Regions from separate parts of the Homo sapiens genome. Here regions 1 and 2 are each linked to region 3. Evidence: fine-mapped expression QTL. A gene starts in region 3. Each other region holds a variant in brackets. All regions are shown on one strand. Distances are from middle to middle. Region 1 overlaps FBXO11 (F-box protein 11). Region 2 holds the start of LOC124907765 (a long non-coding RNA gene). Region 3 holds the start of MSH6 (mutS homolog 6).

What was found. PIP is the estimated chance that this variant, and not a neighbour inherited with it, causes the effect.
Region 1: its variant is the best candidate, but not a certain one, in a credible set for the expression of MSH6 in whole blood (INTERVAL, PIP 0.85).
Region 2: its variant is the best candidate, but not a certain one, in a credible set for the expression of MSH6 in whole blood (INTERVAL, PIP 0.81).

Annotation. Positions count from the first base shown.
Region 1 is chr2:47,874,359-47,884,867 of GRCh38, reverse strand. All of the region lies in intron 1 of FBXO11 (F-box protein 11), which reads left to right. It also overlaps the pseudogene RPS27AP7. Among named protein-coding and RNA genes, the nearest start is that of FBXO11, 27 kb to the left of the region's middle. The variant T/C (reference allele first, on the strand shown) is at 5,617.
Region 2 is chr2:48,044,536-48,055,044 of GRCh38, reverse strand. LOC124907765 (a long non-coding RNA gene) reads right to left here and starts at 7,683. Exons shown (of 2, transcript XR_007086314.1): 1 at 7,281-7,683. RefSeq lists enhancers at 6,998-7,521, 7,522-8,046. The variant A/G (reference allele first, on the strand shown) is at 5,534.
Region 3 is chr2:47,776,058-47,785,594 of GRCh38, reverse strand. MSH6 (mutS homolog 6) reads right to left here and starts at 2,450. Exons shown (of 10, transcript NM_000179.3): 1 at 2,102-2,450. The coding sequence starts at 2,361. RefSeq lists silencers at 1,668-1,757, 1,958-2,117, 2,398-2,877, 4,028-4,209 and an enhancer at 3,008-3,077.

The sequences.
Region 1 (10,509 bases), 99 kb before region 3:
CTTCTGTTTACTGAATTTAATTCACAAGAGTTAGTAATTGGCAACCTTAGGATTAGAATCCGTGTTTTTCTGATTAAACAGCCAGAATGAAGTTTTAATTACTAAATTATAATGCATCAATAATCATCTCCCATGTAAAAGCTTTTAAAAAATACTTCAAAAATACCTGAAGTTACACTGTAAGGAACAGCCATCAGGATGGTGCTGTGAGTTTCAGCATTGAGATTCTCTGTCTCTTCAAAGACAGCAATGATAAACATACACACAATTAATAATCATACTTTCCGAATGAATGTAGATGCATAAATCTGCATCTTCTCTAGAAATCATAAAGAGGAAAAATGCATCAACCTCTGTTTTCAGTGAACTGAAAGACATATGTAAACTCCAGATTATGTTATTTGAGGGCTATCAAAAACATCCGAAAGGGACAGAAGCTATTAGTTTAAATATACTTACTGACAGTAAGGGGTTCATGTTGAAGTTCAAAAGGTAAATCTCTTGTTTGTAATGACGGGAGTTGGTGGCGAAGTACCTGATTATATTCAGAAAAGAGAAAGTAGAGCTGTACACATGTGCACACAGAGCCACATGTACAGGAACCAGCTTTTCTCTGTATTTTTAAATAATTTTTATTTATTTATTTCTTGAGACGGAGTCTTGCTCTGTCACCCAGGCTGGAGTGCAATGGCACAATCTCGGCTCACTGAAACCTCTGCCTCCCGGGTTCAAGTGATTCTGCTGCCTCAGCCTCCCAAGTAGCTGGGATTATAGGTATGCATCACAGGCCCGGCTAACTTTTTTATTTTTAGTAGAGATGGGGTTTCACCACGTTGGCCAGGCTGGTCCAACTCCTGACCTCAGGTGATCCACCCACCTCGGCCTCCCAAAGTGCTGGGATTACAGGCGTGAGCTCCTGCGCCCAGCCAAAAAATTTATTAATTCATACACAATTACTTGTCTTCTGGTTTGTTGAAGCAATAAGCCAGACATTTGCCACAATAATATCTGTCAAAGTGGCTTGCTGTAAACACTGCAGCACCACATTCATCTGAAGGGCACTCCCGACTAAGGCGACTAATTTTACCATTCTCATACACCTTATGGTATTTAAGGACAGCCAACTTAACCTTCTTTCTCTCGTGCTTATTCTTCTTGGGAGTTGTATAAGAATTCTTCCTTGATAACATCACAAAGTCTCAACACAAGATGAAGAGTAGACTCCTTTTGAATGTTGTAGTTAGATAAAGTACGTTCATCTTCCAGTTGCTTGCCATCAAACATCAGTGTTTGCCGATCCAGACGAATTTCTTCCTTATCCTGGATCTTGGCCTTTACATTTTCTGTTGTATCCAAGGGTTCAATCTGGAGGGTGATGGTCTTCCCCATAAGGGTTTTTACAAAAATCTGCATTTTGGTGGCGGCTCTGAGGTTGAGTGAAATAAAGAGATGAGTTAGATTAGGGGATACAGGAGAAGGCAATGCACAGGGCACTGGTCGCAGGGCAGCAGAAGAGCACACACTCCCTTTATTATTTAAAGCGTCAAAGGAGTAGAGAGTCTTTGGACTGTGAAGCCTGTTATTTCCTTCCTTTCCCACTCCCAGGAATCTATGTAAATAGCTGCTTCAGGAAAATTCAGTTTATTCTGTTACGCAAAATAAAAAAGAAGCTGATATGGCAGCAAAACTTCCCAAACACAAAGAACAGTCATTAGTGAAGTGTTGCTACAGAACAGATGAAAATTGTGACCCAGCATTTCACCATCTATTTTTTAGACTTGAGTAAAGCTTGTAAATAGTTCTACAAGAGAAGATTACAAAGCAGGAATGGTAAGAACTCAGAAAAGAGATGGCAGGGCAACAGGAGGACATAAAATGTGAGTTGAGGGAACTTGGGAAAGAAGTAGAAGAAAGCAAATGGCTGGGCATGGGGACTCACGCCTGTAATCCCAGCACTTTGGGAGGCTGAGACAGGGAGATCGCTTGAGCTCAGGAGTTTGAGACCAGCCTAGACAACATGGCAAAACCTGTCTCTAAAAAAGTACAAAATTAGCCGGGTGTGGTGGCTTACGTCTGTAGTCCCAGCTACTTGGGAGTCTGAGGTGGGAAGATGGCTTGAGCCAAGCAGGCAGAGATTGCAATAAGCCAAAATTGCCCCACTGCACTTGAGCCTGGGCAACAGAGGGGAGACCCTGTCTCAAAAAATAGTACAGAAATACAGATGAAATAAGAAGGAGCACAAGAAGCAGACTAGCCCCAAGGAAAACATAATAAGAGACACAGGGATTTTAAAAAATGGAAATAAAGATTTTATTTTTTTAAGTTTTAGAAAATACAGTAGATCCAACAAACTTAGAATTGAAACCCCTATAGAAGAAAACCAAAACATGACAGTAGAACAAGTGGTTAAAAACACAATTGAAGAAAAACTAGCTGAGATGAAACTTACGTATTGAAAGGGCATCTGTGGCAGGGAAAACTGACCAGAAAGATCTTAAAGATTCCTTTCAATAGCCAGAAACCTTCCTAACTACCCCACTCCAAGTTGTTTATAAGACATTGAAATCTGGCTGGCCTTAGAATTCTCCACAACATTCAACCCCAGTCGAACAACATTTATAAGATAAGAAAGTAAAGTGCGAGCTAAAGATTTTATATCCAGTCACATTGTTCTTAAGGAACAAATAGTACTCAGAGAATATTGTTTATGTGAGCCCTTCTTGAGGAAAATAGTAGAGTATAAACTTCAGCTGATAGACATGGGGAAATGATTGGTGTGTAAGCAGTGAATTTATATATAGACATAAAGACTAAAATGTGGGCTGGGCGTGGTGACTCACATCTGTAATCCCAGCACTTTGGGAGGCCAAAATAGGCAGATCACTTGAGGCCAGGAGTTCAAGACCAGCCTGGCCATCATGGTGAAACCCTGTCTCTACCAAAAATATAAAAATTAGCTGGGCATGGTGGTGCACACCTGTAGTCCCAGCTACTTGGGAGGCTGAGGCACGAGAATCACTTGAACCTGGGAGGTAGATGGTTGCAGTGAGAGATTATGCATGCCACTGCACTCCAGCCTGGGTGATAGAGCGAGACTCTGTCTCAAAAAAAAAGACTAAAATGTGGAGATCATAACGACAGAATATAATGTTAATATTGTATACCCTGATGATATACAAATGATCAAACTAATAAAATTTGAGAGAAGGAATTGCCCTATGGTAATAACTGGTATTGAAAAAGATGTTTAAACATCACAGATCAAATAATAGAAATATAAACATATTCAGCACTTTAAAAGAAACATTAAAATAAAACTAAAACACTAAAGATAATGCTATTAGTTTCAATACTATTGATTAAATAGGGTAATGGGAGAGGAGGCGTGCTAATTTTAACATTACTCATGTTGAGGAACTAATAGGTATTGTCTAAAGAGATAGAAATTACAAAGGTAACCATTAGAACAAAGCTATAAACCTTCCTAGATATTGAAAGAACTACAAACCAGTTAAAAATAAAACATCATTTAGTGAAAAAAAATTCTTATATAACCACATACATAACAAGACAGCCCTAAGACCAGACATACCTTTCTTTGTTTCTTTCTTTTTTTGAGACAGAGTCTCGTTGTGTCACCCAGGCTGGAGGACAGTGGCGCAATCTTGGCTCACTGCAACCTCCGACTCCCGGGTTCAAGTGATTCTACTGCGTCAGCCTCCCAAGTAACTGGGACTGCAGGCACCCGCCACTAAGCCCGGCTAATTTTTGTATTTTTAGTAGAGACGGGTTTCACCATGTTGGCCAGGCTTGACTTGAACTCCTGACTTTGTGATCTGCCCACCTCAGCCTCCCAAAGTGCTGGGATTACAGGTGTGAGTCACCATGCCCGGCCCAAACATGCCTTTCTTAAAAAAGATATTAATATGCTTAACTCACCTTTAGAAGGAAAATATTTTTAGCTTAGATTCAAGGCAAAACCCACTCTCTGGTTTATACAAGGTACACACCTAAGGCAGTGATTGTGAAAGACTGGTATTTTAAAAGATAGAGAAAAGGTATAAGATACAAATGCAAATGAAAATAATTTAGGAGTGTCATGATTTTAACATACCAGGTGGAGTTCATACTAAAAAACAATAAAGAGTGGCACTTATTTCTTAAAGGATACAATGAAAATTTAATAGTTGTGAATAGCAATATGTCAGATAACATAGCAAACTTGGTGAAGCAGAAATAACCAAAAATACAAGGAGAAATGGAAATACATTCATAGCAGGAAATGTTTATGTGAAAGACGCCAAACAAGCTTCAACAAATGAAACAACACAATGTTTTTTAATTTTATAAATTAAAACACTGGACATTCTGATTCCACAGTTCATAAGGAAAAGTAAACAAGAAAGGAGCCAGGAAAACTGAAAAAATGAAATTGGATGTTTTTCACATAAATACCAAACAGATCAATGAATAAAATAAAGCCATGAAAATACTAAAAGTAGAAGTCTTCTTATAATTTTAGTATGGGGAAGACCTTTTATACTGATTCAATCCAGAAGTCATGAAATAAATGATAAATTCTATTACATTAAAACACTCTCAGGGCACTCTGGGAGGCCAAGTTGGGTGGATTGCCTGAGCCAAGGAGTTTGAGACCAGCCTGGCAGCATGACAAAACCCTGACTCTACCAAAAATACAAAAAAATTAGCTGGACATGATGGCATGTGCCTGTGGTCCCAGCAACTCGGGAGGCTGTGGTGGGAGAATCTCTCGAGCCTGGAAGGTGGAGGCTGCAGTAAACCGAGATTGCACCACTACACTCCAACCTGGGTGACAGAGTGAGACCCCGTTTCCAAAAAAAAAAAACCTTCTCTGAATGGATAAAGAAAATGTATATACATACAATGAAATATTATTCAAACTTTAGAAAGGAAATTTTGTTGTGTGATACAACCGTAGATGAACCTTGAGGAATTACACTAAGTGAAAGCCAGTCACAAAAAGACAAATACTGCATGACCCCACTTATATGAGATATCTAAAGTAGTCAAACCCTTAGAAACAAAGTAGAGTGGTGGTAGCTAGGGGAAGGGGAAAAAGGGAATTGTTCAGTGGATATAGAGTTTCAGCAAAACTGGTAAAACTTATTTGCAGCCAAAACTTATTTACAGTTAGGAATTAGCAAAACTTATTGGTAATTTTAATCATAGACAGAGGGTAGCCTTCCTGATATACATGCAGTAAGTACTTGGAAACTTGATAACAAAAAGATCTTGCAACCCCATAAAAACCGAGCAAAGATATGAATCGATAATTCACAGAAAATTAAATATAAGTGGCTTTTAAGCTAATGAGGCCAGTACCTCATTCACAGTAAGAGAAGTTAAAACTACAATGATTATAGTTCCCTTATTAGGCAAAAACAAAAGTTGGGCAGCATACTCCATTGGTTGTGAAGCTTTGGGGGAAAAGCTGCTCATACACTGCTATTGAGAATACAAATTGAGATAATCCCTGTGGAAGGCAATTGGTCAATATCTGCCAGAGTAAAAATGTATTTACCCAGCAGGTTGAGTTTTCTGAAATTTATCTTATACTTTACACCACATGATACA[T/C]GTATCAGATTATTCTGTAATAGCAGAAGGTGAGAAACAATCCAGATGTCCATCAGTAGGGGATTAGTCAAAGAAATTATGGAAAAACCATATAATGGAATACCATGCAGCTGTAAGAAAAAGGCAAAATTCTGGGGCTGCATAATTTATATTCATATTTTTTTTACACTCACAAACTTGGAAAGGATGGACAAGGAAATCTTAACATGCGTTACCTGGAGAAAGGGGAGAGGAACTGAATACGTGGAAAGATTGGGAGGGAGGCTTTTTTGTTTTGTTTTGTTTTGAGACAGAGTTTCGCTTGGAGTGCAGTGGCGTGATCTCAGCTCACTACAATGTCTGCCTCCCCAATTCAAGTGATTCTCCTGCCTCAGCCTCTCGAGTAGCCGGGATTACAGGCATCCCACCACGCCAGGCTAATTTCTGTATTTTTAGTAGGAATGGGGTTTCACCATGTTGTTGGCCAGGCTGGTCTCGAACTCCTGACCTCAGGTGATCTGCCTGTCTCTGTCTCCCAAAATGCTGGGATTACAGGCATGAGCCACCGCACCTGGCTGAGACCTTTCATTCCTTTAAAAAAAAAAAAAAAATGCTGGACGCAGTGGCTCACACCTGTAATCCCAGCACTTTGGGAGGCCGAGGTGGGCAGATTGAGGAGTTCGAGGTCAGGAGTTCAAGACCAACCTGGCCAACATGGTGAAACCCCATCTCTACTGAAAATACAAAAATTAGCCCGGCATAGTGGCAGGCACCTGTAATCCCAGCTACTCGGGAGGCTGAGGCAGGAGAATTGCTTGAACCCAGAGGTGGAGGTTGCAGTCAGCTGAGATCGTGCTACTGCACTCCAGCCTGGGTGACAGAGTGAGACTCTGTCTTAAAAAAAGAAAAAAAAAAGAACAAAAGGCAAGGTGTTAAATAGAGACTAAATACATGAATCTATCAAAATCTGTTTTGCAGGCAGGAAGATGCCTCTGAGAGGTCGTCTGCAGAATAGAGACCAAAACTCTACTGTATATTGGTAGACAGATTGGAGCAGGGAGATGAACAGCCTGTTTTTATTACCCCAGAAACTAAAGGGCTGAATCAGGAAAAAACTGAAAAAGAATGTATGATTGTTGCTTAGGGATATGGCTTATATAAATTGCAGGTCCAGAGTGCTGGAAGGAAGCAGTGACAGCCTCCTGGGTAAAAGCTGGGCCTACCTGCCCATGACTTAGGGACTGGATCTTCAGGAGGAGACATATGCAGCAATTATAAGACCTCATTCTGGGCCAGGCACGGTGGCTCACGCCTGTAATCCCAGCACTTTGGGAGGCCGAGGCAGGCGGATGATGAGGTCAGGAGTTTGAGACCAGCCTGATCAACATGGTAAAACCCCATCTCTACTAAAAATACAAAAATTAGCTGGGCGTGTTGGCACGCGCCTGTAATCCCAGCTAGTTGGGAGGCTGAAGCAGGAGAATCGCTTGAACCTGGGAGTCGGAGGTTGCAGTGAGCCAAGATCGCACCACTGCATTCCAGCCTGGGCGACAAAGCGAGACTCCATCTCAAAAACAAAACAAAACGAAACGAAAAACCTTATTCTGGGGTGGGAGGTTTGAGTGAGAGATGGAGAAAATGAAAAATCGTTAGGGTAAGGTAAGCACACAAAGATACACACACACCATGCAACTTAGAGTTACAATGAACCTGCCAAACAAAAATTCGAAAATACAGAAGAAAAACTAAACCTAAAATAACCAAGTCAACACCTTCATCAGAGGGAAAAGAGAATGTTTTCTGTGTACTGATACAGAAATATCTCCTAAGTTTTGTTGCTTAGTGGGAAAAAATGGGAATCATGAAACAGTATTTATAGTATGTTTTCTTTTTTGCAGGAGTGGGAATAATTGATATTCAAGTGAATCCTTAGTCTATAGGTGTAAATAATAGAACAATTTTAAAGTGTATGTTTAAGATCCTCAGGGAGGTAAAGGAAGGAATAATTGCCATAAAAGAACCAAAATTACCAGTGTGGGCAACATAGCAAAACCTCATCTCTACAAAAAATAGAAAAATTAGCTGGGTGTGGTGCTGCACACCTGTGGTCCCATGCTACTGAGGAGGCTGAGGTGGGAGGATCGCTTAAGCCCAGGAGGTTGAGGCTGCAGTGAGCCATGATTGCACTACAGCCAGGGCAACAGAGCAAGACCCTCTCAAAAAAAAAAAACCCTGTATTAAGTAAGATGTCATTAGATGTGTACTAGACTGAACATGGTCAATGAAACAGTGATTTGGAAAATAGTATTAAGGAATTCACCCAGAATGTAGTAAGAGAGAAGTGGAAAAAAAAAAATGAATATAGATCGAGAGATTCAAACCTAAGTTCAATATTCAAAAGAAATTTTAGGAGAGATTAGACATAGTAGTAGAGAAACAGTATTCAGTGAGATAATGATTAAAAGGTTTCCAGAATTTAAGGTTTCATATTGAACTGAGTTTTCATATTGAAATAGCGCACTGCTGAACAGTTGCTTACCAGGATAAATTTTTTAAATCTTCTAGATGCTCAAAAGTGAAATTGCAGATCATAAAACATAAAAGCTTTTCAAAATGAAAAATGCCACAGTCCCTACACTAAAATATTAGTTAAATTAACAACGTATTTACCAGAACAGTGTCTTCCAGAAGATAAAAGGATCTTCTTTCCTCCGAATGTATAAGGAATATAACTGTTGACCTTGATTCTATACTCATTTAAACTATTATCTGTCAGCAAGAATGAGGCCCAAAGTGAGGAAATACACAAAATAGAGAGCTCCTCACTTACAGAAGCTTGATGGGAGAACCAAAGATTGTACTTCAGCAAGAATAGTAAACCAGGGAGAAGGAGGAATTGCAAAAAATAATACAGTGGCAAACAAAGAATTGGCAAAATATTTGATAAATCAAGTTGAGTTGATTGCAAATACATAATTTTTAAAGTAGAATCAAAACTCTAGACAATAACAAGAAAGTTGGAAAATAGAGTTGAGTCAGGAATGCTACTATTCTTGCTTTGTTCCCAAAAAGTAGCACAAAAAGAGACACTGACCAACTTCAGGGTATTTTACCAAAACTAAATAGCTATTTTGTGGCTCTGCAGCCAGACTACCTGAATGAAAGACTAGCTTATTTCTTACTAACTGTGTGACATTAAGGAGTTATTTTACCTTCTTACGCGTAAATTTCCTTATGTATAATTGGGGATGACAATAATACCTTCTCATAGTTGTTGTGGGGAGGATTAAGTGAAATACATATAAAGCCACTGATTAGTACTACTCTATACATGTTTGCTGCTGCTGCTGCTTTTCTTTTTTAACCTGAGTAACCACAAAAGGAATAGAAATAAAATAGATGTCTTCCAGACCAGCAGAACTAAAGGAATGAAAATAAGAGAATGAAGAAGGCTAAACCCTTGGTATACCATCAGGGTCAGTTGGAATAATTTTCATTTTTGATTTTCATTTTAGAGCAGTGCCAACTATTTAGAAGGGTAGATATTATGACTTGTATTCTTAGAGATCTACCAAAGAACAAAGAGAAAATTTATTTTAAAAAATTATTCTATCTTACAGTTACCATATGAGTCCATTAGACCCTTTTTTATAAACCTAACATCCATTATGAGATCTTAATAATCTTGGCTTTTCCTATATATTGAAATATTTTACTACTCTAGGAATTTTATCATTACTTATCAATTATTTATACTGTGCTAAAAAAAAAAAAGACAAAAAAAGAATGACAGAATCTCCTAGAAGGAAGATGGAAGATGTAATAAATAGTCATTTTTCAGTTTTCTCACTGCATTGCTCAAATACTACATCCTACTTCAAAAACGTATAAAAAAATTTAGGAGACATACGAATTAGAAGATAAACGCGAAGATAAATAGCACTCTAGACCTAAGTTGTCCAATATGGTAGCCACTTGCCACATGTGACTATGTATATTTAAAATAATTAAAATTAATAAAATTTAAAATTCCATTCCTCATCACACTTTTAAGGGGTTATGTAGGAGAAGAATACAACTTACAATTACTCTTACTTCACGGTGGCTGGCTGCCATGTTGGACTGCACAGATACGGAACATTGTCATCGTTGTGGAAAGTTATATTAGATATTGCTGTTCCATACGCCAATAATGATAGTGAAATTGAGCATATAAATGAAGTCAGACTTTGATTCTTGAGATGATCATATCCTGTATGAATTTTCTCAGACTTAAGAATTGAATGCAGAAGACGTTTTGACAAAGAAAATATGGTATTTTTATCCAGTTAGTCATTCAACAGGAATATTTCACAACATGAACCTGAACCATCCCTTTTTGCTTTAAAAAAAAAAAAAAAAAAAAGTCCTGAGACAATGTTTTTTAAATTTTGTATGTGGCCAGGCATGGTGGCACATGCCTATAATCCTAGCACTTTGGGAGGCTGAGGCGGGTGGATCGCTTGAGGCCAGGAGTTAGAGACCAGGCTGGCCAACATGGTGAAATCCCATCTCTACTAAAAATAGAAAAATTAGCTGAGCATGGTGGTACATGCCTGTAGTCCCAGCTACTCAGGAGGCTGAGGCACAAGAATTGTTTCAACCCAGGAGTTGGAGGTTGCAGTGAGCTGAGATTGCACCACTGCAATGCATCCTGGGCAACAGAGCAAGACTCTGTCTCAAAATTGTTTTTTTTTTTAAATTTTGTACGGTGTTTGTGTGTTAAACTTACTTAGTACAAAGAGGTATTTGCTGTATTTAAGTTCCTTTTAAAATTTATTTTAAAAGTTGTCTTGCACTGTCTCTGTAAATTATTTGTAAAATAACCTAAAAAAATTTTTAAGGCATCCTTTGGACCCAGGTAGTAAATGGTAT
Region 2 (10,509 bases), 270 kb before region 3:
AATAATAAGAGCTATTTATGACAAACCCACAGCCAGTATCATACTGAATGGGCAAAAACTGGAAGCATTCCCTTTGAAAACTGGCACAAGACAGGGATGCCCTCTCTCACCACTCCTATTCAACATAGTGTTGGAAGTTCTGGCCAGGGCAATCAGGCAGGAGAAACAAATAAAGGGTATTCAATTAGGAAAAGAGGAAGTCAAATTGTCCCTGTTTGCAGATGACGTGATTGTATATTTAGAAAACCCCGTCATCTCAGCCCAAAATCTCCTTAAGCTGATAAGCAACTTCAGCAAAGTCTCAGGATACAAAATCAATGTGCAAAAATCATAAGCATTCCTATACACCAATAACAGACAAACAGAGAGCCATATCATGAGTGAACTCCCATTCACAATTGTTTCAAAGAGAATAAAATACCTAGGAATCCAACTTACAAGGGATGTGAAGGACCTCTTCAAAGAGAACTACAAACCACTGCTCAACGAAATAAAAGAGGACACAAACAAATGGAAGAACATTCCATGCTCATGGATAGGAAGAATCAATATCAAGAAAGTGGCCATACTGCCCAAGGTAATTTATAGATTCAATGCCATCCCCATCAAGCTACCAATGACTTTCTTCATACAATTGGAAAAAACTACTTTAAAGTTCATATGGAACCAAAAAAGAGCCCACATTGCCAAGACAATCCTAAGCCAAAAGAACAAAGCTGGAGGCATCATGCTACCTGACTTCAAACTGTACTACAAGGCTACAGTAACCAAAACAGCATGGTACTGGTACCAAAACAGAGATATAGAGCAATGGAACCGAACAGAGCCCTCAGAAATAATACCACTCATCTACAACCATCTGATCTTTGACAAACCTGACAAAAACAAGAAATGGGGAAAGGATTCCCTATTTAATAAATGGTGCTGGGAAAACTGACTAGCCATATGTAGAAAGCTGAAACTGGATCCCTTCCTAACACCTTATACAAAAATTAATTCAAGATGGATTAAAGACTTAAATGTTAGACCTAACACCATAAAAACCCTAGAAGAAAACCTAGGCAATACCATTCAGGACATAGGCATGGGCAAGGACTTCATGACTAAAACACCAAAAGCAATGGCAACAAGAGCCAACATTGACAAATGGGATCTAATTAAACTAAAGAGCTTCTGCCCAGCAAAAGAAACTACCATCAGAGTGAACAGGCAACCTACAGAATGGGAGAAAATTTTTGCAATCTACCCATCTGACAAAGGGCTAATATCCAGAATCTACAAAGAACTTAAACAAATTTACAAGAAAAAATCAAACAACTCCATCAAAAAGTGGGCAAAGGATATGAACAGACACTTCTCAAAAGAAGACATTTATTGCAGCCAACAGACACATGAAAAAATGCTCATCATCACTGGTCATCGGAGAAATGCAAATCAAAACCACAATGAGATACCATCTCACACAAGTTAGAATGGCGATCATTAAAAAGTCAGGAAACAACAGGTGCTGGAGAGGATGTGGAGAAATAGGAACACTTTTACACTGTTAGTGGGAGTGTAAACTAGTTCAACCATTGTGGAAGACAGTGTGGCAATTCCTCAAGGATCTAGAACTAGAAATACCATTTGACCCAGCCATCCCATTACTGGGTATATACCCAAAGGATTTTAAATCACACTGCTATAAAGACACATGCACGTGTACATTTATTGTGGCACTATTCACAATAGCAAAGACTTGGAACCAACCCAAATGTCCATCAATGATAGACTGGATTAAGAAAATGTGGCACATATACACCATGGAATACTATGCAGCCATAAAAAAGGATGAGTTCATGTCCTTTGTAGGGACAGGGATGAAGCTGGAAACCATCATTCTCAGCAAACTATCGCAAGGACAGAAAACCAAACACCGCATGTTCTCACTCATAGGTGGGAATTGAACAATGAGAACACTTGGACACAGGATGGGGAACATCACACACCGGGGTCTGTCGTGGGATTGGGGGAGGGGGAGGGATAGCATTAGGAGATATACCTAATATAAATGACAAGTTAATGGGTGCAGCACACCAACATGGCACATGTGTACATATGTAACAAACCTGCACGTTGTGCACATGTACCCTATAACTTAAAGTAAAATAAAAAATAAAAAAGTTACTGATCCTTTGTTTTGTTTTGCAGAGTTAAGAAAACTTTTCTTTTAAGCTATTTATAGCTTTCAACAATTGAGTAAAGTATACCCCTGTGGACAAAATTTGGAGCCTATTTGTTTCTCCTACCTGATTTCTCCAGAATTTGGAAACTATTTCTAACTATTCTAAATTTATGGCAATATAGTTATTTGCATAAGTGCAATAAGAATCTGTTTTCTTTTGCAACAGGACACAGTTGGAAAAATTGGTTATTTTACCAAGACTGTCCGGAATGGCATGCTTTCCTTTAAGAACTCAAATTTGACTTATAGAGCCAATAAAAGCCCCTTGGGGAACTAGCCTCATACCTCGCCTACAACAGTCCCTGTACAAGGTTTCTGACCTGTTGTAAGTAAAGAATGTCACTTTTGAACAGGTCCAGGAGCCCCAGGTTATCTTGGGACCCCAAGAGGAGAGGAATTTACTCAACTCTTAGATATTTGAGGGCACAAACCCATGGCTGGCCTTGGCTTTAAAAAAGTCTTATCTGAGATTCCTTCTATGAAACAGTTCCATCAAAGCCAATTTACAAAAAGCCTATGTGAAAAAATAATTATTCCTGCTGCACTTTATACAAATAATCAGACAAAGCATAATAAAGCAAATCAGTCTTACCATAATTTGTCTTTAGTAAATATGGGAAACTGGAGAGAAAAATTATGTTTCAAAAACTATGGTACAGTTGTTATTAGATTCTAGTATCATCAATTGTTTTTAAGATTGTTTCTGCAATTTAGGCTAACATTGTTTATTCCTGTGAACCAACCAGTGATCTCTGGCTGCTGCTCAGATGGGTGATGTAAAAACCTGGATCAATATTCTAATCCTGGGCACACAGTGGAATCTTCTAGCAACCCCATATCAGCTTGGTTCCAACAGTTGCCTAGTTCATGGAAAGCCTTCTAATTTAGTTTGCCTGGAATAATTTTACTTATTTTGCTTTACTGTTGTGAAATATATTGCTGTTGTACTCTTTGTGTAGGGATGCAGGATAAGTTTACTGAATGTTTTCTTAAGTTGAACACTTATTAATCTTCCAGATATCACCTTTTGTCAGAATTCGGAGTTTTGAATGGCCCTCGCCATACCAACACTTTCTGACTGAGCTCCTCTCTACCCTAAACACAAAAGACTCTAATAGTTAGGCAGGAACATAATTGCCCCTATTCAGCCTGAAGAAGTTGCAGAAGATGGATCTTCATCCCTCTGCAACCCTTAGGATTAAGGGTTCTCCTATAAAAGGGATGGGGGAAATGTCAGAGGCGTGTAAACCAGAACAACTCCATCTTAAATAGGAGCTGGCTAAACTAAGGCTGAAACCTACTGGGCTGCATTCCCAGATGGTTAAGGCATTCTAAATCACAGGATGAGACTGAAGGTCAACACAAGATCAGATCATAAAGACCTTGCTGATAAAATAGGCTGCAGTAAAGAAGCCAGCTAAAACCCACCAAAACCAAGATGGTGATGAGAGTGTCCTCTGGTCGTCCTCACTGCTACACTCCCACCGGTGCCATGACAGTTTACAAACACCATGGCAACATCAGGAAGTTGCCCTATATGGTCTAAGAAGGGGAGGCATAAATAATCCACCCCTTGTTTAGCATATCATCAAGAAATAACCATAAAAATGGGCAACCAGATGCCCTTGGGGTGGCTCTGTCTAGAGTAGCCATTCTTTTATTCCTTTACTTTCTTAATAAACTTGCTTTCCCTTTACTCTATGGACTCACCCTGAATTCTTTCTTGCATGAGATCCAAGAACCCTCTCTTGGGGTCCGGATCGGGGCCCCTTTCGTGTAACCACTTCTTCAATGAAAGAGTTCTGCATTGTGAATTGAAAACCAAAAACAACATTCTAAGCCACCCCCAGCCATCTGAATGGACTTCCTCATCTGCTGGTGTGCTCTAAAATTTAACCTGAAAGACTGGTTCAGGCCTTGACGGGAAGTGAGGGTCTGACGTGCCTTTTTATACCCTCCAGCATTAACATCAAGGCAGACCTTAAGTCTGATAAGAAATATTTACAATTTATTCTCTCTGAAACCTGCTATCTGGAGGCTTCATCTGCATGATAAAAGTTTGATCTCCACAACCTCTTATCATAACCTAGACAATTCCTCTCTATGGATAATAACTCAACCAATTGCCAATCAGAAAAGTTTTAAATCTACCTATAACCTGGAAGTTTGGAGTTGTGCTGCCTTTCTGGACTGAACCAATGTATATCTTAAATGTATTTGATTGATATCTCATGTCTCCCTAAAATGTATAAAGCCAAGCTGCACCCCTACCAACTTGAGCACGTGTTCTCAGGATCTCCTGAGGGCTGTGTCACCAGCCATAGTTACTCATACTTGGCTCAGAATAACTCTCTTCAAATATTTTACAGAGTTTGACCCTTTTCATGGACTGAATTCATCCAGGTAGAAATTGGGTGAAATGCTGTAACTTAATTTGGGAGTAATGAAAATTAGGTATTATTCACCAGACCTATTTTATAAAAAAATTGCAAATCAAGTAGGGCTTTAGAAGGCTGCCCTTGTCTTTCAATCCCAGGAATCCCATGAAGAATAAACCAACATCAAAGATCTCTTTAGAGCAGATCCTTCTGATTACCATATGGCCCAGAGCCTATTCAGGAGCCTCACTCACTTTGCCTCTGGCAATTAATTCCAGAACTTGGCCTGTGCCATCCCCCCCGCACCTTTCCATCCCCATCCCTGGTTGATTTAACTTCAATCATTATCTTATATACACTAATTATCTTTACCTATACTACTAATTACTTACTGCTAATTAACTTAACCTAGGACAGAAGCCAGAATTTACTAAAGTTCTTGCAAAGAGCTGCAATAACATTGTTAGGAAAAAGCTTTTCTCTAGTTTCTCATCAAATGAACACCTCTCTGCAAAGAACATCACATACTTTTAATTACTCTACCAATACAACTTTTAAGGCAGAGATTTGCTTTAAATTCATGTCAAGGTCATCAAATGAAATTCTGAAGAGCTATCTTGAACATTTTGTAATAATCTATTCTGACTAGAAAGGAGTTTAAGGACCTTTTTAAATTCTTGCAAACACCATTCTCATTTTATTATTTGAATGAATGTGCCTGGGGCAAACTTACCTAGTTTAAAAAAAAAAAAAATCCCTAGCAGATACTTCCAAGCAACCTGTTTCTTTCCTGCACTGGGTCTACATTTTTCACAAAGTTCCTCATCTTTAGAATGTGTTTGCTCTTGGTCTTTCCTGAAGAAATGTCTTATTCAGCATTTATTGCTTCTTCCATTCCAGAGGTGGGGAGATGCACTGGCCATATGGAAAG[A/G]GAGATCAGTAATTTCTGGTGCTTAACGTATACTACATTTGAGACGGGCTCAAGATTTAAAGGAATGAGCCAGCTTGGAGTTACTAACTGTGGAGTCAAAAGTGGTTTCATCAGATTGCATTTGAATTTCTAATTCCAGCCCTTCGCTTTCTCCCTGACTCTCCATTCTCAAATGGCAAGGCTGAGAGAATCCCCAGTGCATTCCATCTCTTCAGACCTGAGAAACATCATTCAGAGGAATTATCGCTGTGTCTCTCATCACAGTTCTGTCCATTTGGAAAATGGCACAGAGTTCAGGGAGTAGCTTCAACATGGGCCTGAGCCTTTCTCCAACATTTCCAAACACTTCTATTTCTTTTGTGGCTTACTCTCTATTTTGCACTTTTATCTCAGCTCTTGCTGAAGGTTGCGCCTGACCCCAAATTCATTGCCCCTCACCAAGATGACTCACTGAGAGCTGCTCTGAGGAGCAGCATGACAGAGTGGAAAGAATGGATTCTGGAGCTATAGCTGCACTCAAACCCTGGCTCTGCATTTACTGGCTCTGAGACTTTGACCACATCTCTCGCCTCTGTGAACACCAGTTTCCTCATCTGGAAATGAAGTGCATCAGTCCTACGTCAGAGGGTTATTATCAGAATTAGAATAAATATATGTAAATTCAAGGGAATCTCTGAAGAGATAATTCTAACCTTCCAACCACAGGAGCACATTTACTATTAGGTCTGACCTTGTTTTGCTTTTACCCTTCCTAGTTTCAGCTGGGCCTCAAAAGCAAAAAGGCCAAGATCCAACAAGAAAATCTGTTTCTGCTGTATTCTCTTGGCTGCCTAGGAAGACTCTTTTGGCAGGCTTTCTGGTGATCTGTCCAAGCCTGGGGCCTCTCTTCCCTGGAGTTTCCATCACCTTGTTTAGAGGAGAAGAAACTCTAAGCATCATTATGCAGTGCCTGAGAGGCAGTTGCTCTCTTTCTTAATCTGAATTCCTTTAGTCCTTTATTTCCCTCTTTGTCTCCCAAAGAAACCAATCTGCACACTGTGGGACATAGAATAATATTTATTACAAGGATGACAATAATAATAGCAGCCTCTATTTATTGCCTGCTTCCTATTGTCAGACATGAGAGACCAAGCACATTATATATTATCTCAATTATTATATAATAGAAATGGCAAATATTAATGCAGTATAAAAACATTAAAAGGGGTAAAAATGGTATTTCATATTGATAAAATGTACAATCCACCAAGAAACTATATTAGTCATGAACTTCCATGCACCTAACAATATAGTTTCAAAAAAATATGAAGAGAAAAGATTCTAGCATTTTACAAGGAGAAATCGACAGAATGACTATCATGTTAAAAGTTAACACACTTCTCTATAAAAGATATCGAAAACACAAAATTAAGCATAGCAAGAGTTAATAACATGGTAACAAGTTATATAGAAATTTGCACTCAACAGAGATTACACATTGTTCAGAAACATGTGGAAAGAGTTACAACTAACCATGTATTAGGCCATAAAGAAAATGTTCATAAACAAAAAGCAGCATTCATACAAGTATATTTATTGAAAAAATGCAAAAAACTTAGAAATTAACAACAAAAGGATAGCAAAAAAAATTGATCTAATTAGAACATTTAAATGCCTTTTTATAAATGTTTATTGCATGTATCAGTCAGGGTTTAATCAAAGATATTGACCCCTTAAGAAATATATAAATGTGTTATAGAGATTTTACCTTATGCAGTTGTGGTTGCTGGTTGAATACTAGTCTCTGTAAGGGTATTGTCATTGCATCTGATGCTGGAGCTGGAAGTCCTCAGGGCAGGCAGTCAAGATGTAAAATAGGGAGAGCAAGAACAAGCTGGAACCCATAAGCACAAGCTTGAGCCAATAAGACAGGCAAAAACCTGTGTTTGTACTTGTTGCCTCTGACCTTGGTCATGCAGAAGCCAGGGCCCTTTGTCATGAAATTAGGCGCACACACACACACACACACACACACACACACACACACAGATACACACACACACACTCCTGGCCCAAGAGTCAGAGAAGCTGAAGGAGGATCCAGGGGAAGATGGAGCAGTTCCAGTCCTGGCCACTGCCCACACCAACAAGGAAACAGACAAGGTATGTGTGTTTCAAAATGGCTGTTGCTTCATTTACAGTCTCCAAATCCCCCAGGGGAATCTCTCTTGTAATACAGCCTAACTGGAAACATTCAAGAAAGGGAATTCTGGGAAATGTAGTTCAGCCTAGTCAAGGCAACACGTTACAAAGCCACTTCAGTCTGTTCTTTGCCAAGTTTGCAGGCATACATATCTCCATAGTTAACCTCCAAATAAAGGAAATAATAAAGTCATGCTTCTGCCTAACATAATACAATTATCGCCATGCAACCAAAAATATGGTCACTCAGGGGTCAGAGACTTTTTCTTAAAGAGCCAGATAGCAAATATTTTAGGTTTTATAGGTCACATAGTTTCTGTTGCAACTATTCAATGCTAGCATTGTATCATGAAAGCAGCCATAGAAAATGCATAAGTGAATGAATATGACTGTGTTCCAAGAAAAACTTTTTTATAAAAATAGATGACCAGCTCATGAGCCATAGTTTGTTGAGCCCTGCGTTAATTCTTTTATGTAAAGAGAATAAAAAGTCCTCTTTTTGATTTGGGTGATCTTTTATTCTTCTCCTAATTGATTCACATGTCACTTTTTGATATCTTGTAACTTAAGTATTGAGAAAAAAGTTAACTTAGCATATATTATATTAGATAAGGAGATGAGAAGGAAGGAAGAAAACAAAAATATTTGGTTAATATATACATAATATGCACATCGAAGTAAGTATTCACAACAATCGTAGTCCTCTTTTCTGCAATGTTCATGTGGTCATAGCTGGTATTTATAACTGCCTTCTTCTACTAAGCATTCATATTTCCTTATCAAGCCCTGTAACTAGTCACAGTTCCTTATCTGTTTCCAAATTTATTCCTAAAAGGTCTGACCATTAACAGTTCTGCTTGAATTGGAGGTTGTTGTAGTTTTACACTGACTTAATAATCACAAAATATGAGTATACTAAAAGTTTCCCTAGAGGGTCTCCTGCATTCTAGACATAGCCATTCATTCCATGGTAACAATTTAATTTTCCCTTGATAGTCAAGATCAGTCAACACAGCCAGTATAGTAACCCCTTTCTTGATATGCCATTCATTCAGTGGCATTAGGAGCTCAAAGTGGCCAAGTGGCAGTCTTCTCAACTGAGTGTTCAATGGAATCATTGTGTCCCTGGTGGAAGCATTTCTTCCTTTGGAACTAAGACTTCTAGAGCAGTAGAGCCTAAAATTTTGGGGATGAAAAAAAAATTGTGCTAGTGGATCACTAGGGATGATCATGAGAACAACAACTTCCATTTCCACCTTTTGCTTCCTAGACTTGTAAAGCTTGCCATGGTAGAAATAGCACTATAGAATGGATATTGATTTAGAACATTAACCACAACCTGAAGGACCTTGACCCAGTCCCACAAGGTGTTGCCACCCAGCTAGTGTGATAACTGAGCCTTTCAAAGACTATTCTACCATTTTAACACATCGATTGCTTCAGAATAATGGGTAACATGGGTAACATGGTACAGAAATAACTTCTGTAGTCTGGGAAAATGCTGATGTTACACTTGGCTGCCCAGAGAACAGTTTCAGTTCCCACTGGCCACCTAGAAATATGAGGCAGCTTGCAAGTGTAGAATGATCATTTTCTTTATGGAGTTGAAATAAATCTCAGGTCACAAATTAAGGATTGAAAGAAATTAACTTTATTTTTTAATAACCAAACATAATTTACTTTATGAGCCTCATTCCATATAGTAGTAGAAACCTAGTGAGTCAATCCAGGGACCTATCTTTGGGATTACATGAGTTTATGGCATAGGAAGGGAGGCACCGTCATCTCTCTGTAACTGCATGTGTTGAGATGTCCATCATTTAGCTGGGCCTTGGTCCCAGAGCCCTTCTCAGCCTCTTGCTCCTGACCACTAGGTCTCTCCAGGCTGGCTCTACCTTGAGTACTTCTGTGCCCCTCTCAGAGATAGAGGAAACACTCAACTCTGCTTCTATCCTACCTGGACAGGAAAATTCTACAAGTATTAAAACTTCCCTGAAAGCAAGATATAATCTTCCTCTTCTCCTAAATCCCTATTCCCATCTGGGGAAGATCTTGCTTCCTTCATACTCCTCAGGAATTGACCTGGGGGCAAGCCATATGACCCCTGCTGAGGAACAAAAAACTGGTCCTGCTTTCTCTCAGATGCTCCTCTTATTCCTCCCCCAGTTCTGGACACTTTATCTAATCTCAGATAGAAAGGAGGGAGAAAGAACTATCTTTGATTAATCAAGTATTATTCTTAATGTTTTTGCCTTCTTTCTGGACCTAAGCTTTTAAAACTCAAAAGGTAAAATTTCACTCTTTTGTTCTCCGATTTTTCTGCAACAACCTTTCCTAAGACAATCTATATCTCAAGAATGAGGGAAGGGCTGTAAGATAAATAAAAAGAATCATAGGGAACTTATATCAGTTAATATCAAAGTACTATTCTGTTACAATTAAACATATTATATCCTTATATAAAATTTGTTTCATTTTATTTTAATTTATTTTAATTTTTTAGACACAGGGTCTCACTCTGTTGTCCAGACTGGAGTGCAGTGGAGTTGATCATAGTTTACTGTAACCTCATACTCCAGGGCTCAAGAGATCCTCCCGGCTCGACCTTCCAAAGTGCTAGGATTATAGGTGTGAGCCACTGTGCCCAGCCGAAATCTGTTTATTTAAAAGAAATCATAGTCCTTAATTTTCCTTCAGTTCTACCCAAAGCAGAAAACTGCCTAGCAGTGCTCTAAGTTTCCTTGATGTGAAGAAAGTCCGAGACACGGTCCTCAACCTTATAGGTTGAATTGTGT
Region 3 (9,537 bases):
ATCTCAGAATTCCTTTAGGACACTTTAAACTGGATTTAAATGGATTTGAAATCCATTACTCAAAACCACTAACTAGCGGCCGGGCACGGTGGCTCACACCTGTAATCCCAGCACTTTGGGAGGCTGAAGTGGGTGGACCACTTGAGGTCAGCAGTTTCAAGACCAGCCTGGCCAACATGGTGAAACTCCATGGTGAAAAATCAGCCGGACCGCGGTGGGCACACCCGTAATCCCAGCTACTCGGGAAGCTGAGGCAGGAGAATCACTTGAACCCGGCGGGCAGAGGTTGCAGTGAGCCGAGAAAGCGCCACAGCACTCCAGCCTGGGCGACAGAGCGAGACTCCATTTCAAAACAAAACCAAACAAAAAACACGAACTGGCTCTTATCTTGAATGAGTTATTTTTTCTGAGCCTTTATTTCTTCGTTTGTTCAAATAGCGACCATTAAACTTTGTGTTTAGTATCTGACAAACGGCCGGGCTCGGTGGTTCATGCCTGTAATCCCAGCACTTTGGTAGGCCAATGCGGGCCGATCAAGAGGTCAGGAGTTCGATACCAGCCTGGCCAACATAGTGAAACCCGTCTCTACTAAAAATACAAAAATTAGCCAGGCGTGGTGGGGCGCACCTGTAGTCCCAGCTACTTGGGAGGCTGAGGCAGGATAATCTCTTGATCCAGAGACAGAGGTTGTGGTGAGCCAAGAACGCGCCACTGCACTCTAGCCTGGACAAAAGAGCAAGACTCTGTCTCAAAATACATATATATGTATCTGGCAAACAGCAAAAGCAAGCTTTTCAAAATGTCGCCAGCTGCCCGGATAAAAAGCCCTAAACAGACCGGGCGCGGTGGCTAGCGCCTGTAATCCCAGCACTTTGAGGCCGAGGCGGGTGGATCACCTGAGGTCGGGAATTCCGAGACTAGCCTGACCAACATGGAGAAACCCCGTCTCTACTAAAAATACAAAATTGGCGGGGTGTGGGGGCGCATTCCTGTAATCCCGACTACTCGGGAGGCTGAAGCTGGGGAATCGCTTGAAGCCGGGACGCGGAGATTGCGGTGAGCTGAGATCGCGCCATTGCACTCCAGCCTGGACTTGAGCGAAACTCTCTCTCAAAAAGGAAAAAAAAAAAAAAGCACTTAACTGCCCATAAAGTGAGGACAACTCCCGACAGGCTTCCCCGGAGTCACTCACGTCCACACATCTTTGTCCAGCGCCCGATTAAGGCCTCTAAAAGCCCAGTGGTGCCCCATAAAAATTACACTATTTCATAAAATAAAATATTTTCCACTCGACACGAATTTCCACATACGTCAAAATATTCTATCTTCGTCTCGGTGCACGTGCAGCCTACCTACCGAAGGACCCAGCCGGATCCCAGCACTTCGGCTCCCCACGGCCCCGCCCCGCCCAATTAGGCCCCGCGGTCCCCATGGTGACACACCCCCCCGCGCTCGCAGCTCGTGGCCCACCCCCTCGGCGGCCCCTCACCTAGGCCGAAGGCCCACCGTCCCCAAGGCGTCTCGGCGACCGCGGCTCTTAACTACCTCTAAGTGTCTACCTCGATCGACTACTGGAGCCCCAACTCACTATCTCCGCGCCGGCCGAGGAACCTCCTTTCGCACCCCACACCACCGGACTCTCCCCGTTCGGCCTCCCGCAGGCATTCCTCCTTCCCGCCACCCCGCCCCCCGCCCCGCCCACCAAGTGGGCCGGGCGCCTTCCCCTTCTCGCCCCACCCCCAGTGCTCCCACCTCCCAGGCCCCCTCCCCACCCGGAGCTGCGCGCGTCGCCCCTTCCTTAGCCCAGCACCCCCACCTGGCGGGACGCGTCTCCTCCCTCCAAAAGGCCCGAACTCTCCGCGTCTCCCCTGCAGCCCTCTTCCTGCACAGCCTCTCTCCTCCGACCCTGTTTACAAGCTACACCCCCAAATGCTCCAGACTCGACCCCTGCACTCATTCAAGCCAACTCTGCGGCCCCGCCTCCTCCGAGCCCAGGGCCAGGCCGTGCACCCCCCCAACCCCCTGTGCGAGCCTCCCCTCGCCGGGTTCCAAGCGCCCCGCCGCTATGCCCCCGCCTTCGACCCCACCCCCACCCCGCTACCTGGTGGGGGCAGCAGGCGCTACCGATCTCCGCAGCCCTCCGTTGAGGTTCTTCGCCTTGGGCGGTGACGCGGAGCGCGCCAAGGGCCTGGGCCCAGGCCCAGCCTCGCTCCAGGCCGCATCCCCGCCTGGGGAAGGAGAGGCCCCGGGGGCAGCGGCGGCACGGCCGCCTTCGCGTGAGGCCCTGGCCGAGGCCTTGTTGGCATCACTCAGCGCCGGAGACTTGGGGAAGAAGCTGTACAGGGTGCTCTGTCGCGACATACCGACAGCCGGCAAGGCCCAACCGTTCTGTCGGACGGAGCTCCTAAAAGCACCGCATCTACCGCGCGGCTCCTGCTGGCGGGAAATCTGGGGGGAGGCGCGCTCCGCCGGAGGAACCCGGGCCCCAGTGGCCAATCAACAGGCGCCTCGCCGTGCGCGGGCGGTGCGCGCCAGGCCCCGCCCCCGGGCGCGCGGCGACGTGGGGAAGGGCGGGGCTGGCACACTGGTGGGTAGGGGCGGGGCTGGCACGCTGGCGGTGAGGGGCCCGCCCTGCCGCCGACGCCTGGGCCCCGCGCGGGGAACTGCTGAGCTCCCCTTCCCTCACGCCGCGGGGCTGGCCGGGCCGGAACACTCCGACCCGGGGTTAGTTGCGGCCGCGGGGCTAGCAGGCTCGGAAAGCCCTGCCTCTCTGGAGCGGAAGCGGGAACAGCGGGGGCGCGCACCGCCCGGGCGGGGATAACCGGGGGGACCCGAAAGGCCTCGGAAAGGGGCTCGCGGGGAGAAACGCGTCCAGCGCTCGCGTGACCTCCTGCCGTTAGAGCATTTTCGCAAGGAGACGGAGCGAAAGGGACCAAACTTTAGTCAGCAGTTCACCTTCACGTTGTATTCTCAAGATTTGTATAGAGTAGGCACTTGGTAAACGCTAAATGAATATTGTAATAGCATTCGTTAGCGATGCTGTTGTGTATGGTGAAAGCCTGCAGCTGTACAAAGTTTTCCTTTGCCAGGCACTGATCCCAGCATTTTACATCTGGTAACTAAATCGATCCTCTCAATAACCTGTGACGTAAGTACTTAAGGGCCACAGTCCGTTATCTGAGCCCTTTGACCCAGGTGTGTCTTTACAGGATTTTTCAAATTTTAGAAAGCTAAGAGACTATGAGAGGCCGGGCGCAGTGGCTCACGCCTGTAATCCCAGCACTTTGGGATGCCGAGGCGGGCGGATCACCTGAGGTCAGGCGTTGAAGACCAGCCTAGTCAACATGGTGAAACCCCCGTCTCTACTAAAAATCCAAAAATTAGCCGGGCGTGGTGGCATGCGCCTGTAATCCCAGCTACTTGGGAGGCTGAGGCAGGAGAATAACTTGAACCTGGGAGGCAGCGTTTGCAGTGAGCCAAGGTCGCGCCACTGCACTCCAGCCTGGGCGACAAGAGCGAAACTCCGTCTCAAAAAAAAAAGAAAGAAAGCTAAGAGGCTATGAGAATAAAAAGGTTCTATTCAAATTCAAGAAAGATAGTGGAAGACAGACAATTGTTTGTCCCCTTATCCAGATTGTGAAATCCAGATTGCCGGAAACCAGTCACAATCAACAGCTGTACATTGGTAAAAACCTATGTAAAATTAGTTGTTTGCCTTGTTCTTGGAGACTGTTCTGCCAGAAGGTTCTCCTTTGCTAGGCAAGTAATAAAATCAATCTAAAAAAAAAAGGCGGGGGCCGGGCGCAGTGGCTCACGCCTGTAGTCCCAGCACTCGGCACTTCGGGGGGGGGGCGGAGGTGGGCGGATCACGAGGTCAGGAGATCGAGACCATCCTGGCTAACACAGTGAAACCCCGCCTCTACTAAAAATACAAAAAATTAGCCTGGCGTGGTAGCACACGCCTGTAGTCCCAGCTACTGGGGAGGCTGAGGTAGGAGAATGGTGTGAACCCGGGAGGCGGAGCTTGCAGTGAGCCGAGATCGCGCCTCTGCACTCCAGCCTGGGCGACAGAGCAAGACTCCCTCTCAAAAAAAAAAAAAGAATATTGCCAAAGGTGGTATGTGCTAAGAAAAATACAGTATGCTTCACGAATTTGCATTTCATCCCTGTGCAGGGGTCATTCCAATTTTGGTATATGTGCTACCCAAGCAAGCACAGTGAAACCAACTGTTTGAGATAATATTTGAGAGTTGGTCTCTTTCCCCCACCGGCATACGTAAACACCCCCAGAGAGTCTGGGGGAACATGCTGAAATCAAACATGCAGTAAAACTTACATGCTTATTCATACTAAGTAGAAAGAATACAGAATATAGACTATAAATAGCCTCAGGTCAAAATTTGCTACCAAATGAGTTTACCCCCAAACTTTTGGTTTACAGAGCTTTTTGGATTTCAGAATTGCACGTAAGAGGCTGGTTATCCTGTATCTCCATATCATGGATGAAGCTGAGGCACAGTTGGGTCAAGTAACTTGCCCATGACTGCATAGCTAGGAAGTGGTGGAGCCTGGATTTAAACTCAAGGAAGCTGGTTCTGGAGCCCTATGTTGTTAACAGAAATACTATAATACTTCCAATTTAACACCATTTTATCTCATTTAGTTATTACAACCACCTTATACTAGGTTGAACTATGTGAAATTGCCAAAATTTGCCCTTTTTAAAATTTTTTTGAGACAGGGTCTGGCTCTGTCACAGAGGCTGGAGTATAGTGGCGTGATCTTGGCTTACTGTAGCCTCAACCTCCCAGGCTTAAGTAATCCTCTCACCTCAGCCTCCTGAGTACCTGGGACCACAGGCCCGCAACACCATGCCCAGCTAATTTTTTTTTTTTTTAATTGAGGAGTCTTATTCTGTCACCCAGGCTGGAGTACAGTGACGCCATCTTGGTTCACTGCAACCCCTGCTTTGCGGGTTCAGGCAATTCTCATGCCTCAGCCTCCTGAGTGCTAGGATTACTGGTGCCTACCACCATGCCCAGCTAATTTTTGTTTTTTAGTAGAGACACGGTTTCACCATGTTGGCCTGCCTGATCCCAAACTCCTGACCACAAGTGACCCGCCTGCCTCAGCCTCCCAAAGTGCTGGGATTACAGGTATGAGCCACTGTGCCCGGTGCCCTGCTAGTATTTTAAAAATTTTCTGTAGAGACGAAGTTTCACTATGTTGCCCAAGCTGGACCTTTTTGGTTTTTTGGTTGTTTTGTTTTGAGACAGGGTCTTACTCTGTCTCCCAGACTGGTGTGCAGTAGTGCAGTCTCAGCTCACCACAACTTTCACCTCCCAAGCTCAAGCAATTCTCCTTCCTCAGCCTCCTGAATAGCTGGGATTACCGGCACGCGCTACTACTGCCCAGCTAATTTTTGTATTTTTAGTAGAGACAGGATTTCACCATGTTGGCCAGGCTGGTCTCAAACTCCTGACCTCAAATGATCCTCCTGCCTCGGCCTCCCAAAATGTTGGGATTACAGGCGGGAGCCACTGCGCCCAGCCAAGCTGGACCGTTTTTGAAGTACAAATATTAATATTTAATTCATTTTGGTTCAACTGAATATAACGTTATTCTCTTTTTGTTGTTGTTGTTTGTTTTTTTGGGGATGGAGTCTTGCTCTGTCACCGAGGCTGGAGTGCAATGGCACGATCTTGGCTCACCACAACCTCCGCCTCCCAGGTTAAGGCAATTCTCCTGCCTCAGTCTCCTGAGTAGCTGGGGTTACAGGCACCAACACACCCAGCTAAGTTTTGTATTTTTAGTAGAGATGGGGTTTCACCATGTTGGCCAGGCTGGTCTCAAACTCCTGACCTCGTGATCCGCCCATCTCTGCCTCCCAAAGTGCTGGGATTATAGATGTGAGCCACTGCGCCCGGCCGATGTTATTCTTTTACAGGGAGGAAATGGAGGTTCAGAGGGGATGCGCCAGTTGTAAGAGGTTAAGAGCCTGGGCTTTGGGTTAAATGGAGAACTGAGCTCTGATCCTAGCTAGCCAAGCAGATAACTCGGAGCAATTAATACTTTTCTGAACTTGTTTCCTCGTCTTTGATAAGGACAGTAGTACCTATGGGCCAAATTTTGGAGGCTACAGTTAGATGCCTCCCACAAACTTCATTAAAAGACAAGAGAACACATGTATTATGTGGGGACACTCAGACCCCCAGAATTGGCATGAATGTTACTTGGAACTGAAGACATTTGAGAGCCAACAGATGCAGAAAGATGCCGTTTCAAAGCTTCCCTTATGCGACTAACAGCAGAAATTTCTGGGAGTGAAGCTGCCGTAAATCTCCTCTCTAGGGGAGTTTTAGTGGCCAGAAAAAAAGACAAAGACCACTTGCACCTGCAAAAACAAACATTCTTATCTCCCTTTTGTTCCCCCAGAAACCTATTTGTTCTTCCCATGGAAGGCTTTTTCTCCCTCCTCTTCCCCTATTAAATGGTATATATAAAGTAGATTTCGAGATTCAAGAAAAAAAAAGTTGTATAAATGCCAAATAACAGCCTCCTGGACTCACTTTTTTTTTCTGTGAACTCCTGCATGCATATCTGAATAAAAGTCTGTCTTTTTTTTTTTTTTTTTCTGAGACAGGGTCTCACTCTGTTGCCCAGGCTGATCCTCCAGCCTCAGCCTCCCAAGCAGCTAAGACTGCAGGTGTGCGTCCTCACACCCTGATAATTTTATTTTCTGTAGAGACTGGGTCTTGCTATGTTGCCCAGGCCGGTCTCCAACTCTTGGGCTCAAGCCCTTCTCTCTACTTGGCCTCCCAAAGTGCTAGGATTACAGGCCTGAGCCACCGTGCCCGGCCCTAAACTGTCTTTAGTCTGCAGTGCCCAACCAACACATACATTCCATGACTATATATGGGTTATTTTGAAAACTGAATAAAAATATTTTTCTTTTATATGTATTTTTTTTTCAAATGGCTACACTTAGTAAATTGCATAACAATCAATGGAGTTGTTTTGGCCTAGGAGATGTGGCAGGAAAGTACTAAGGTAGTAAATATACTAGGTGTTTGGGAACCTCTGGCCTACTGGTTAAGAGCTCTGTATTCAAAGTTTGTGTTCACATCCCAGCTGAGCTGCTTACTAAACTGCACGAGCTTGTTGGGCAAGTTATTTAGCCTGTGCCTCAGTTTCTACATCTGTAAAACAGGGATGATATTAACACTACCTTCTTCATGGGTTGTGCTAAGCATTGAGTGAAAGGGCATTATGAAGCCCTCAGCCCAGTGCTTGGCACGCCATACGTATTCAATAAATTGGACAGTTATACAAATAAATCACCAACTGGCCAGGGACAGTGGCTCACACTTACAATCCCAACACTTTGGGAGGCCAAGACAGAAGGATGACTTGAGGCCAGGAGTTCAAGACCAGCTAGCAACATAGTGAGAACCGCCTCCTTCTCTACAAAAACATTTAAAAAATTTAGCCAGGAGTGGTGGCACGTGCCTATAGTCCTAACTACTCTCTACTCGGGAGGCTCAAGGCAGGAAGATTGCTTGATCCCAGGAGCTTGAGGTTGCAGTGAGCTATGATCAGGCCACTGCACTCCTACCTTGAGACCCTGTCTCAGAAAAAAAAAACAAAAACAACACACACACACACACAAAACAGAAGAAGAAAACAAGTATTCTCCAGAAGAATACAGTGCCCTGTGTTCCCCCCTTTGCCCGTCCAAGGAACAGCGTGACCCAGCAATCTACGTCTTTGTCCTGGGCCTTGGGAGATAAAGTCAAGGATGAAGAAAGGAGGGGCATGTTTTGTGAGGGTTCCGTCCTAGCCCAAGCAGCTCACGATCACCAGGGACAAGCCTGTAGTCTGCCAAAGTCAGGGTTTGTTTTGCTGGTTGCAACGGGGGAGCCTCCACAGCAGACGAACCATGGGGGTGTCTCACCAAACTACAAAAGGGAGGGAGAGGGTGGAGTTTAGGATAAATTTACCTGAAACAGTGTTTTGAAAGCTCAAATCTAGCTGTGTGTAAAGACAAAGCTAAACTACAAAGTCCACCCAAGGTCGCATTTCCTTGGAAACAGCAAAGTTAAGATAGATGTGGAATAGCGTCCACAAATCCCGTATCTAAAGTTACACACCTGGGTTGTAAATCAAAGCTGTTTCTGTGTCAAAGTAAGACGCTCCAGGCAAGAGTGGGATGTTTCATTTTTGCTGATATAATTTCAAACAGCAAGGCAAGGGGAGGTGGCTTACGCCTGTAATCTCAACAGTTTGGGAGGCCGAGGTGGGAGGATTCCTTGAGCCCAGGAGTACAAGACCAGCCTAGGCAGCAGAGTGAGACCCTTTCTCTACAAAAAAAAAAAACACAAAAATTAAAAATAAACCAGCTGGGCATGGTGATGCATGCCTATAGTCTCAACTACTGGCGATGTTGTGGAAGAATCACTTGAACCCGTGAGGCCGAGGCTGCAGTGAACCGTGATCGCACCATTGCATTCCAGCTTGGGTGACAGACTGAGACCCTGTCTCTAAATAAATAAATAATAACAATAATTTCAGCCAGCAAAGTTTCTGAAAGCCTATGACTTTAGAGAACAAGATTTCTGAGATTGTCAAGAGTAAAAAAAAGTTTTCCTTATGCTACTTTGGGATGGCAGTTTATCCTTGGGACAGATTGTGTTTCCTGTTTAACTTTGTAGCTGACTTTATCTTTGTTATCCCAGCCAGATGAATGGCCTGGAATGTTTCAGATTTCTCATTCCTTGCTTATTTTAACTTTCTCAATTCTCAGGAAAAAGGAGGGGAGAAACTTTGTGCAAGTCAGGTGGAAAGAAATAGCACTTGCACTCTGCCTTTGGTCAGCAAGGGTACAGAAATCAAAGCCTCTTGTGTACTCCCCTAAGTACCAAAGGTGTGGTGGAGGCTCTGGGAGGATGGCTGGGGAAGACAGACCCAGAGTCCACTTGGAGAGAGGAAAGATGGGCCTGAGGGCTTCCATAGCCTGGAGGCACTCCCTTCCCCCACTCCAGCTATCTTCTCCATCCTGTGACTAACATCCATTATTATTTTATTTTTTGAGCCAGGGTCTGGCTCTGTCACCAGTGGTGCGAACATGGCTCATTGCAGTCTCAACCTCCTGGTCTCAAGCAGTCCTCCTGCCTCAGCCTCTAGAATAGCTGGGACTACAGGCATGCTACTACCATGCCTGGCTAATTTTTAAAATTTTTTTTGTAGAGATGGGGTCTCCCTATGTTGCCCAAGCTGGTCTCAAACTCCTGAGCTCAAGCAGTCCTCCCACCTCAGCCTCCCAAAATGCTGGGAATACAGACATGAGCCACCTCGACTAACTGGCTGGAAACTTTCATTATCTCAGACCACAAATGGCCCTGGGGGATAGAGAGATGGGGAGGGCTAGCACCAGTATTTCTCTAGCTCTCCAAAGCCATCCTAGGTGGAATTGCCAGGTACTTTTCTAATATGGTCTCAGCCTCTGATCTCCAAAGTCTGGCCCCAGTCTTGCTTCCC